3 linked regions of the Homo sapiens genome follow. The protein of the gene in region 2 purifies or fractionates together with the protein of the main gene of each other region. This does not show direct contact. Each region holds a gene or a part of one and is shown on either strand. Other genes may lie near its edges.

Region 1 (3,648 bases), on a different chromosome or scaffold from region 2:
AGGAGCAAAAGAGAATGAGGGCTGTAATCCTAGCACTTTGGGAGGCCAAGGCGAGTGGATCACTTTAGGTCAGGAGTTCGAGACCAGCCTGGCCAACGTGGTGAAACCCTGTCTCTACTAAAAATACAAAATTAGCCGGGCATGGTGGTGGGCACCTGTAATCCCAGCTACTCGGGAGGCTGAGGCAGGAGAATCGCTTGAACCCGGAAGATGGAGGTTGCAGTGAGCCGAGATCGCGCCATTGTACTCCAGCCTGGGTGACAGAGTGAGCCTCTGTCTCAAAAATAAATTAATTTAAAAAAGAGAGAAAATGAGGGGGATGGGGAAAAAGCAGGCTGAAGGTGGGAGACCCCCCGCACCCCCCATCTCTGACTGTTGCCAGCCAGCTGTGATTTTGGAAGAGTTTTGCTAAACCTCTAAGCACTGTTTTTTTTTTTTTTGGTTTTTTTTTTTGAGACAAGAGTCTCGCTCTGTCAGGCTGTGTGCAGTGGTGCAATCTTGGCTCATTGCAACCTTCCCCTCCTGGTTCAAGCAATTCTCCTGCCTCAGCCTGCTGAGTAGCCGGGGCTACAAGCACGCACTACCACGCCTAGCTAATTTTTGTATTTTTAGTAGAGATGGGGTTTCACCATGTTGGCCAGGCTGCTCTCGAACTCCTGGCCTCAAGTGATCCCCTGCCTCAGCTTCCCAAAGTGCTGGGATTACAGGAATGAGCCACCACAACTGACAAAGCACTGGTCTTTGTCTGAGAAAAGGAGCTGGGTTGAATCGTGTCCCCACAAAAGATGTTGAAGTCCCAACTCCGAATCCTTAGAATGTGGTATTATTTGAGCTGGGTCAGGCGGCTCCTGTTTGGTAATAGGGTCTTTGCAGAGGTAGTCAAGACAAAGCCAGTAGGGTGGGCCCAGTATGACTGCGCCTTAGAGAAAGGGGAAACATAGACACAGAGACAGACACAAAGACAGAAGATGACGTGAGGATACAGGGAGAGGCTGGGTGCGGTGGCTCAGGCTTGTAATCCCAGTGATTTGGGAGGCAGTGGGAGGGGGGGCCAAGCGGGGGTGGTAGAGGAGGATTGCTTGAGGCCAGGAGTACAAGGTTACAGTGAGCTATTATTGCGCCACTGCACTCCAGCCTAGGTGACAGAGCTTGCTTAAAAAAAAAAAAAAAAAACTGTCTCGACCAGGCGCAGTGGCTCATGCCTGTAATCCCAGCACTTTGGGAGACAGAGGCAGGCTGATCCTGATCACGAGGTCAGGAGTTCAAGACCAGCCTGGCCAACATACTGAAACCACGTCTCTACTAAAAATACAAAAAAATATTAGCCGGGCGTGGTGGCACACGCCTGTAATCCCAGCTACTTGGGAGGCTAAGCCAGGAGAATTGTTGGAACCCGGGAGGCGGAGGTTGCAGTGAGCCGAGATCGCACCACTGCATGCCAGCCTGGGCGACAGAGGGAGACTCTGTCTAAAAAAAAAAGAAAAAGAAAAAGAAAAATACTGGGAGAATGTCATCTACAAGCCAAGGAACTCTTGGAGCTGCAAAAATCTAGGAGGGAAGCTTGGAAGATTCTCCCTCACTGACAACTGACGCCTTGATCTCAGACTTCTGGCCTCCAGAACCAGACCCAGAAGAGGAAACATTTCTGGTTATTTAAGCCACTCAATCCCTGCTACTTTGTTACAACAGAAGTAACAAACTCATATAGCAACTGCAGTCCTTTCCAGATTCTAGGGATAAAACTGAGCATTGTGAAAATATGGGGCTGGACACAGTGGCTCACACCTGTAATCCCAGCACTTTGGGAGGCCGAGGTGGGAGGATGGCTTGAGGCCCGGAGTCCGAGACAAGCCTGGGCAACATAGCAAGACCCCTGTGTCAACAAGAAATTTAAAAATTAGCTGGACGTGGTGGTGTGTGCCTGTAATCCCAGCTACTCTGGAGGCTGAGGCGGGAAGATCACTTGAGTCCAGGAGTTCAAGGCTGCAGTGAGCTGTGATCATGCCACTGCACTCCAACCTGGATGACAGAATGAGACCGTGTTTCTTTATTTTAATTTTCAATTATTTTATTTTATTTTTTTTAAGATGGAGTCTCGTTCTGTCACCCAGGCTGGAGTGCAGTGGCATGATCTCGGCTCACTGCAACCTCCACCTCCCAGGTTCAAGCAATTTTCCTGCCTCAGCCTTCCAAGTAGCTGGGATTACAGGTGTCCACCACCATGCCTGGCTAATATTTGTGTCTTTAGTAAGGACGGGTTTTCACCGTGTTGGCCAGGCTGGTCTCAAACTTCTGGCCTTAAGTGATACTCCCACCTTGGCCTCCCAAAGTGCTGGGATTACAGGTGTGAGCCACCATGCCCGGCCCCTGTCTCTTTTTAGCCAAAAAGAAAAAAAAAAAAAAGAAAAAAAAAGAAAGGGTCAGGTGCAGTGCCTCAGGCCTGTAATCCCAACACTTTGGGAGGCCCAGGCAGGCAGGTCACTTGAGGTCAGGAGTTCGAGACCAGCCTGGCTAACATGGTGAAACCCCATCTCTACTAAAAAACTACCAAAATTAGCCAGGCGTGGTGGTGGGCGCCTGTAATCCCAGCTACTCAGGAGGCTGAGGCAGGAGAACCGCTTGTACCCGGGAGGCAGATGTTGCAGGGAGCTGAGATCATGCCACTGTACTCTAGCCTGGGTGACAGAGTGAGACTCCGTCTCAAAAAAGAAAAAAAGATATGGAATGGCATAGCAATGTGGGGACTCCGGTGCTCCTGGCTATGGAGGTAAGGAAGATAAGGGGTCTGGATTGGCCTTTGAGTGGGGCTCTGTCTTCAGTTTCCTCTCTTTCTTGGGTGATGAGAAGGCTTCCCGACTTCCCCAGACACCTGCCCCGCCCCTCTGGTCACACCCCCTTGCCAGGGGAGGGCCTCACCTGGAGGGTGCAGCCAAAGACCCCAATCATGAGCATGGCCACGGTGAGGTACTCGGCCAGCACGTCCCACCAGGGTTTGAGCACCTTGAACGCAGGCTGCTGTTCCGTGAACTGCTTGAACTCGGCCACTGGGATCATGCTGCCTGTGGGACGGGACGAGACGGGGGGTGTAGAGAGAGACCCTCAGGATGGGAGGCTCTGCAGGGGGTCCTCCGAGGAGCCGGACACAGGCAGGCCTGTGACCCTCCCTGCCCAAACTTGTCCAAACCACCAAAGTGTGTGCCCCCACTTCCCTCTTAGCCTGGCCTTAGTCACCCTCCATGCAGACGTCACCACCTGCCCAGAACCAAGCGGCCACTGTTCCCCTCTGGGCACCCCTGCACCTGATCTGACTTGTCTGACCTCGAAGAGCACATGAGGGATAGTCCACAGGGCCGCCGCCCTCCAGCCTCCTCGGGTGGCCCCCTCCCCAAAACGAGGCATCCCTCTCCCACCCCTGACACCAAGGCCTGAAAACATCTGCCTCGATGCTCCCTGACTGCAGACACTCAGCGTCTGGGCCAGCCCCGGCTCCCACCGCCACCAGGCCTGAAAGCGTTCCAAGGCTCAGGACTTCCGGGGCGTAGGCCCCTCCACCCCCTCCAGGGGCACTCTGGGCACCACCTCCAACCTCTAACCGGAAAAGCCGGCTGGAGCCTGGCTCTGGTTACTAGGGCCCCAGGGGCAGGGACT
Region 2 (3,748 bases):
GAATAATAGACTGTTAGAGCTACAGGGGACATAGATAGGATCTGATGTGACCTTTTCATTTTATACACGGGAAAACTAATTCCAGGAGAATGATGTGGCTTGCCTAAAGGCATATTATATGTCAGCTGTAGATCTGGGAGTCTAAATGGTCTCGTAACTGTTTACTACACAAGCTATAATACCTCCCTTAAGTGGGTGTAAAATTGTCATTGTGAAGAACTTTTCTCTTCATGAATTTGGGTGCAGAATATACCAGAGAGGAATTATATAGACTAATTCCTACCCTTATTAAAAATAGTTTCTCTCAGCTAATTTAGACACCCCCCTTCTGAAAAAGAAATCAGTTTACCACCATAAACATAGGAAAAGAACCTCTAATTATATATGTTGCAAAATAAGTGATATCTTTTTCTTAATTTCAGATAAGCTCTTATTCACATTTTTTCACTCTATCTCATGTGCTGTTTACTTCCTTATCTCTCAATCTGCACCTGCTCAAAAGAAGCTCAAGTTATCTCAGTCATGTCATTAATATATATGATTATATATTATATATAACTATATATTATATATATGACTATATATTATATATGTAACTATACATATAATATATATAGTTTTATTTTGTTTTGTTTCAACCTCATTTTAATGAAAGGGTCGGAGCAACCACAGTAAATGTCTGATTTTAAAACTGAATACCTATCTTGGACTACAAAATAGGCAGGGATAGTTTGTGTTATACTCAGACCAAGTTGGTGTACAGGAAAATCTCAATGCAGGCAGTGGCCAGGGGCTGGAAAGTGACAACAGGATGTGGAGAAGTCTCTCAAAGTGTGGCCACCTCACCCCAGATCACCTGATGTGCTTATTTAAAATGAGGCTCCACCTCAGACCTTCTGAATCCCATTTTCCTGGGGGTGAGGTATGCATATTGCTCCCAAAGTAAGTTTTCTGCATGATTCTTAGGAACATTTAGATACGAGAACCCCAAGAATAGAGGGAAGAAAAATAGAAGACGAGCTAAAGGAAATGATAAATAGTTGTGGTTACCATTCATCTCATTTGAGGCAAGTCCTTTTAAGTCTCAATTTCCCATCTGAGCTCATTCTATTTTCCCTCTGTTCCCTTCCATTTCTGAATTTCCCCAATTCTAAGTTTTTCTCTGAACTTTGAGCCTGTGAAAAAAGAAGGGATGCTGCCTCAGGCCACCCCAGCCTAGATACTCACTCTGAGTGCCATGAGGTAGTAGAGGACACTGATGACAGTCATGGGGAGGAGGTAGAATAGGAAGGAGGTGACCTGGATGATGAAATTGTAGATCCACATGGGCTTGATGACCGTACAGGTGGCCGAACCTGGGACCAGGGACCCATTGGGGAAGTAGTGGAACTTGATGCCATGGATGCTGGTGTTGGGCAGGGAGAAGAGCACGGAGAAGCCCCAGACGATGCCGAGGATCCTGAGGGCCCGGCGCCGGGTGCTCTGCAGTTTGGCGCGGAACGGGTGTAGGATGGCCACGTAGCGCTCCACGCTGACGGTGGTGATGCTGAGGATGGAGGCGAAGCACACGGTCTCAAAGAGGGCCGTCTTGAAGTAGCAGCCCACGGGCCCGAACAAGAAAGGGTAGTTGCGCCACATCTCATAGACCTCCAGGGGCATTCCAAGGAGCAGGACCAGGAGGTCAGAGACCGCCAGGCTGAAGAGGTAGTAGTTGGTGGGCGTCTTCATAGCCTGGTGCTGCAGAATCACCAGGCACACCAGGACATTGCCAATGACCCCCACCACAAAAATTGGCACATACACCACAGACACGGGGAGGAAGAAGTGGCTGCGCCGAGGTCCGCAGAGGAAGGCCAGATACTCCTCGGTGCTGTTCAGGTGTTTCTGGAATGGATCTTCTAGTTTCTGCTGGTAGATCCAGGAAGCATTCTGAAGTTTTTCCATCCCTGACATTAAAATCCAAGGCCTGAGCCTCCCCTGGTACGAGGCTCTGTTTCAAGCTGAGCCAGGAAAAAAAAAAAAAAAAGAAAAAAGGAAAACAAAAAAGAGAAAGCAGTCACGAAAGTCACAGGCTTCGTAAGGAAGGCTGGGAGAGAGTGAGTGTTTCACCCTCCAGGTTAGGCTGCCTGGACCGCCGATCCCTTTTGAAGAGCCCCGGAGACACAAGCCCCTCCCCTTGACAGGCTGAGGGCCAATGAGAGTGTGTTAGGCTGCACTGGAGGAGAGGGGTGCTGGCTTCGAGTCAGGAAGCAGGGGAGGAGGCAGAGACCTCTCCCTGAATGGGAAGGAGCTGGGAAGGCAGAGCTGACACAAAAGAAGCCACTCGAACTTCATGGATGGGCACTTTGAGCAATGCAGGTTGCAAAGTTGTGGGAATCTGGGTAGACATAGAAATTAAAGTTGCAGGGCCATGGGCAAAAGAATACCAATCTCCACTAACCCTTGTCAGCCGTACAGCATGATGAAAATAGGAGATCAATAGATTTCTCAAGTTATCTTGTTCCACTGGAAATTCAGGGTTCTCTGGGGATTAATGTGATAACATGATTAATGTGACTTTTTGGTTTTAACTGCATCAACGATAGAATCCGAAGCCTGAAAGGGCGCATGCACAGTGCCTAGCCCTGACTGCTAACTGACTCTTCAGTCTCAGCAGAGCTTTGCTGTAAGCAAAAGGCAAATGGACTTCAGAATTAGGAACACTCATAGAAATTTAGGAAAGTTGGCACAGTTACCCAAACTCTTAGAGGCTTATTTCCTTATCTGCATCATTAATTCGATTGCGTTCCACAATAACTTCTTGAGGATTCACTATTTGCCAGGGAATGTTCTAAGCTTTGTAGAAACACTAGTGTACAAGCAAGACAAGGTCTCTGCCCTAGTGGAGCTTTTCTTGCAGTAGGGAATTCTGAAAACACACAAGCAAATGAATAAATTAATAATATAATTTCAGATAGTAATTGATAAATAATTATTTATCAAGGATGGTGAAAGAAAACTTATCTCAGGAGATGTCACTTTAGCTGAGGTCTGAATGATGAAGTCAGTCATGAAAGAGCTAAGGGAAGTGTATTACTCAGCAAAAGTAATAGCAAGTGCAAAGGTCCTGAGGCAGAAACAAGCTGGATAGGTTTTAAAAATATCAGGAAGACCAGAATAACTGGAATTTAATAAGTGGTCAGCAAAGTATGAATGCTTAGATTGAAGTGGCTGGCAGGTACAGGTTCATGTAAACTCTTATAGGCCATGGAAGAGAGTTTAGCTCTGATTCAAATGGCAGGGAGAAGTCTTTAAAAGATTTTGCACTGGAGAATTAACGAGGGAGAAATTTTAACAGAAGGTAGGTAAGAGGCTAGTAAGACATAGTAGTGGCTTGGATTCTATGAGCAGTGGAGTTGAGAGATTTCTTTGGATTTAGGAATATTTTTGCAGGAGATAATACCTTTTATGGTCATTGAGAAGACTAAATTAAATTATATATAACGAAGCAACTTATACTTAAGAGATGCTCACTAAATGTTAATTTTTTCCCTTTATTTGTTAAATCAGATTATGACGTTAAAAATTAGAGAGGGAAAGTGACTTGTCCAAGAATAAGTCATCTCTCAAGTTAAGATAGTTTACGCTGCTGTAACAAATGATTGACATATCTTGGTGGTTTTAAACAATACAGATTTATTTCTCTTGTACTTCAAATGTATTGAGGGTCTGTCTCATGCTATGCTCACTCATAAACCTAGGCTGATGC
Region 3 (3,648 bases), on a different chromosome or scaffold from region 2:
ACCTGGGTCACCAAGGGGAAACACAGGCTGGGGGACTGGGAAGCAGAAACCCAGCTTGTTGGGGTGGAGGGTGGCTACCGGCGATTGACAACCTATAGCCAGCAGCTGCCATGGACCCAGTACTGTTGCAGGCACTTAGCTTGGGAGTGAGGGTGGGTAGTGGCTTTCTACCCAGTTTGCATTTCCACAAATATTTGGCCTCTTGTGCATATACCATTAGGTATGACAGCCGGGTGCGGTGGCTCACACCTGTAATCCCAGCACTTTGGGAGGCTGAGGCAGGAGGATCGCTGGAGCCCAGGAGTTCCAGACCAGCCTGGGCAACAGAGCAAGAGCCTCCCCCCAAATACAAAAATTAGCCAGGTGTGATGGCAAATGCTTGTAGTCTTGGCTACTTGGGAGGCTGAGGTGGGAGGATTGCTTGAGTCCAAGAGGTCGAGGCTGCAGTGAGCTATGATTACAGCACTGCACTTTAGCCTGGGGGTTGGAGTGAGACCTTGTCTCTTAAAAAAAAGGAAGGAATGACCACTGAGTGATTAAATCCAAGGCTGCCCAATGAATACCAGGCATATCCCTTTAGCACATTTGATATCTGAGTCTGATCCTTAAGATCGGGGCTGGAGATTTTCTTACCCCGTGACGCATGATCATCCGTGTCCTCCTTTTCCTCCTTCCTAGGACCCTGCTGCAGGAAGACTATGGGTTCTTCCGCGCCATCAGCCTGTGGCCCCCACTGGTGTTGATCGGAATCTATGCCACAGCGCTCTCAGCGTCCATGAGCTCGCTCATTGGTGCCTCCCGCATCCTCCATGCCCTGGCCCGGGATGACCTCTTTGGTGGGTTCTCTGCCTCCTTGCTGGCTTGGAGCACGCCCTCCCTTGTCTGTCTCTCCGTCCCCGCTGAGCCCTGGCTGATGTGTCTGCTGTGGATTCTGTTTTTCTAGGCGTGATCTTGGCACCGGCCAAGGTTGTGTCCCGAGGGGGAAACCCCTGGGCAGCTGTACTTTATTCTTGGGGCCTGGTGCAGGTGAGCCTTCTTCTTCAAGGGGCCCTTTCCCTCACCCCACCAGCTGGCAGGATGGGGGTGCAGTTAGATGCAGGCTGGGAGACAAATGTAAAGACAAATGCGTATGCACTTGGGGTTGCACTGGCACTCTGCAGGGTTCACTGGCACTTTGTGGGGTTCACCAGCACCTTGCAGGTTGCCCCAGTGCTTTGCAGAGTTCATTGGCACCCTGGGAGGTTCACTGGCACTTTTTGGGGTACACGGGCATTGTGCAGGGTTCACTGACACTTTTTGGGGTATACTAGTATTTTTCAGTATTCACTGGCACTTTGTGGGGTGCCCCAGCACTTTGAGGGATTCACTGGCACTCTGTGGGATGTACCAACACTTTGTGGGGGTTCACTGATACTTTGGAGGTTTGGTGGCACTCTGTGGGAGTGCATTGGCCCTTTCTGGGGATCACTGACATTGGGGGTGCACTTGCACTTTACAGGGCTCACGGGCACTTTTCAGGGTTCATTGACACTTTGGGGTGCACTGGCACTCTCTGGGGTTCATTGACACTTTGGGGGTGCGCTGGCACTTTGCATGGTTCACTGGTACTTTCCAGGGTTCACTGACACTTTGGGGGTACACTGGCACTTTCTGGGGTTCACTGACACTGGGGATACACTGGCACTTTTGGGGTTTAATAGCATTTTAGGGGCTCATTGACACTTTGGGGGTGCACTGGCACTTTTGGGGTTTAATAGCATTTTGGGGGTTCATTGACACTTTGGGGGTGCACTGGCACTTTGCAGGGTTCACTGGCACTTTCTGGGGCTCATTGACACTTTGGGGTACACTGGCATTCTTTGGTGTTCACTGGCATTTTGGGGGTGCACTGGCACTTTGGAACAACGGCACGCCTCTTGGCCCTTGCCCAGCTGGTGCTCCTGGCTGGGAAGCTGAACACACTGGCTGCTGTGGTCACTGTCTTCTACCTGGTGGCCTATGCTGCCGTGGACCTGTCCTGCCTGAGCCTGGAGTGGGCCTCGGCCCCCAACTTCCGGTGAGAGACTCAGATCTGTGTCCCCAGAGAGAAGAAGGGAGGACTCGGGCTCAGGCGTGGGGCTGGGGACTGCAGCCTCGTGTGCGGCCTGCCCTGAGTTTCTGTCCCTCCTCCCCTCCATGCCCGCAGCCCCACCTTCAGCCTGTTCTCCTGGCACACCTGCCTGCTGGGGGTGGCCTCCTGCCTGCTCATGATGTTCCTCATCAGTCCTGGCGCGGCTGGTGGCTCCCTGCTCCTCATGGGTCTGCTGGCTGCCCTGCTCACCGCGCGAGGAGGCCCCAGTAGCTGGGGCTATGTCAGCCAGGCCTTGCTTTTCCACCAGGTATGGGGAGCTGGTGGGGCGGTGGGGAAATGGGAGGTGGTCAAAGAACCCCCTCTCTCTTTGGCTGGAGTTGGTGCTCCCGTCCAGGAGGCGCTGAACGGGGCTGTGCATTTGATCCTGCCACTTCCCCACTGCCTCACCCCTATACCCAGGTGCGTAAGTATCTGCTTCGGCTGGACGTCCGGAAGGATCACGTGAAGTTCTGGCGGCCCCAGCTGCTGCTCCTGGTGGGGAACCCCCGGGGCGCCCTGCCTCTGCTGCGGTTGGCCAACCAGCTTAAGAAGGGGGGGCTGTATGTGCTGGGCCACGTCACCCTGGGAGACCTCGGTGAGCTGCCCTCCCACTCACTCACTCACTCCCATCCTTCTCTCCCCCTACCTTTTTTTTTTTTTTGAGATGGAGCTTCGTTCTGTTGCCCAGGCTGGAGTGCAGTGGGACGATCTTGGCTCACTGCAACCTCCACCTCCCAGGTTCAAGTAATTCTCCTGCCTTAGCCTCCTGAGCTGGGATTACAGGCACACACCATCATGCCTGGCTAGTTTTTGTATTTTTAGTAGAGAAGGGGTTTCACCATGTTGGCCAAGCTAGTCTCGAACTCCTGACCTCAAGTGCTCCGCCCATCTCGGCCTCCCAAAGTGCTGGAATTGTAGGTGTGAGCCACCACGGCCAGAACCCCTCCCCCGCTTTTTTTTGAGACAAGGTCTTGCTCTGTCACCCAGGCTGGAGAGCAGTGGTGCCATCATAGTTCACTGCAGCCTCAACCTCTTGGGCTCAAGTAATCCTCCTGCCTTGGCCTCCTGAGTAGCTGGGACTACAGGTGTGTGCCACCAGGCCTGGCTCATTTGTAGAGATGAGGTCTCTTTATGTTTCCCAGGCTGTCTGGAACTCCTGGCTCAAGCAGCCCTCCCACCTTGGCTTCCCAAAGGGCAGGGATTACAGGCATGAGCCCCGACACCAGCCCCTCTGCCCCTTTTATCCTTTCCCATGACCCCTCCAAGTAGCCATAGCCCTGCCCAGGCCCGTCTGTGATTTGGACTCTAGGAGACATTGAGTTTGGACAACACTGGCTACCTTCCTTTCCTTATCTTCTCTGTAGACTCCCTGCCCTCGGACCCTGTACAGCCGCAGTATGGGGCATGGCTCAGCCTGGTGGACCGTGCCCAGGTGAAGGCTTTTGTGGATCTAACCCTCTCACCCTCCGTGCGCCAGGGGGCTCAGCATCTGCTGCGAATCTCCGGCCTCGGTGAGCTGCTTCTCCCTGGATGCCCTC

The links.
Region 1: the proteins of NMUR2 (region 2) and LRRC8E purify together in Homo sapiens (affinity purification with mass spectrometry; 2 studies listed by BioGRID and IntAct, with this or other methods). This does not show direct contact.
Region 3: the proteins of NMUR2 (region 2) and SLC12A9 purify together in Homo sapiens (affinity purification with mass spectrometry; 2 studies listed by BioGRID and IntAct, with this or other methods). This does not show direct contact.

Annotation. Positions count from the first base shown.
Region 1 is NC_000019.10:7,895,010-7,898,657, reverse strand, and holds part of LRRC8E (volume-regulated anion channel subunit LRRC8E), read right to left. Parts: exon of another isoform or gene 3,319-3,648; intron 3,060-3,318; 5' UTR 3,055-3,059; coding exon 2,917-3,054; intron 1-2,916. UniProt on the Homo sapiens protein: Non-essential component of the volume-regulated anion channel (VRAC, also named VSOAC channel), an anion channel required to maintain a constant cell volume in response to extracellular or intracellular osmotic changes.
Region 2 is NC_000005.10:152,403,161-152,406,908, forward strand, and holds the start of NMUR2 (neuromedin-U receptor 2), read right to left. Parts: upstream 2,120-3,748; 5' UTR 1,954-2,119; coding exon 1,228-1,953; intron 1-1,227. UniProt on the Homo sapiens protein: Receptor for the neuromedin-U and neuromedin-S neuropeptides.
Region 3 is NC_000007.14:100,859,207-100,862,854, forward strand, and holds part of SLC12A9 (solute carrier family 12 member 9), read left to right. Parts: intron 1-678; coding exon 679-836; intron 837-943; coding exon 944-1,026; intron 1,027-1,931; coding exon 1,932-2,056; intron 2,057-2,185; coding exon 2,186-2,378; intron 2,379-2,530; coding exon 2,531-2,705; intron 2,706-3,474; coding exon 3,475-3,621; intron 3,622-3,648. UniProt on the Homo sapiens protein: May be an inhibitor of SLC12A1. Seems to correspond to a subunit of a multimeric transport system and thus, additional subunits may be required for its function. May play a role in lysosomal ion flux and osmoregulation.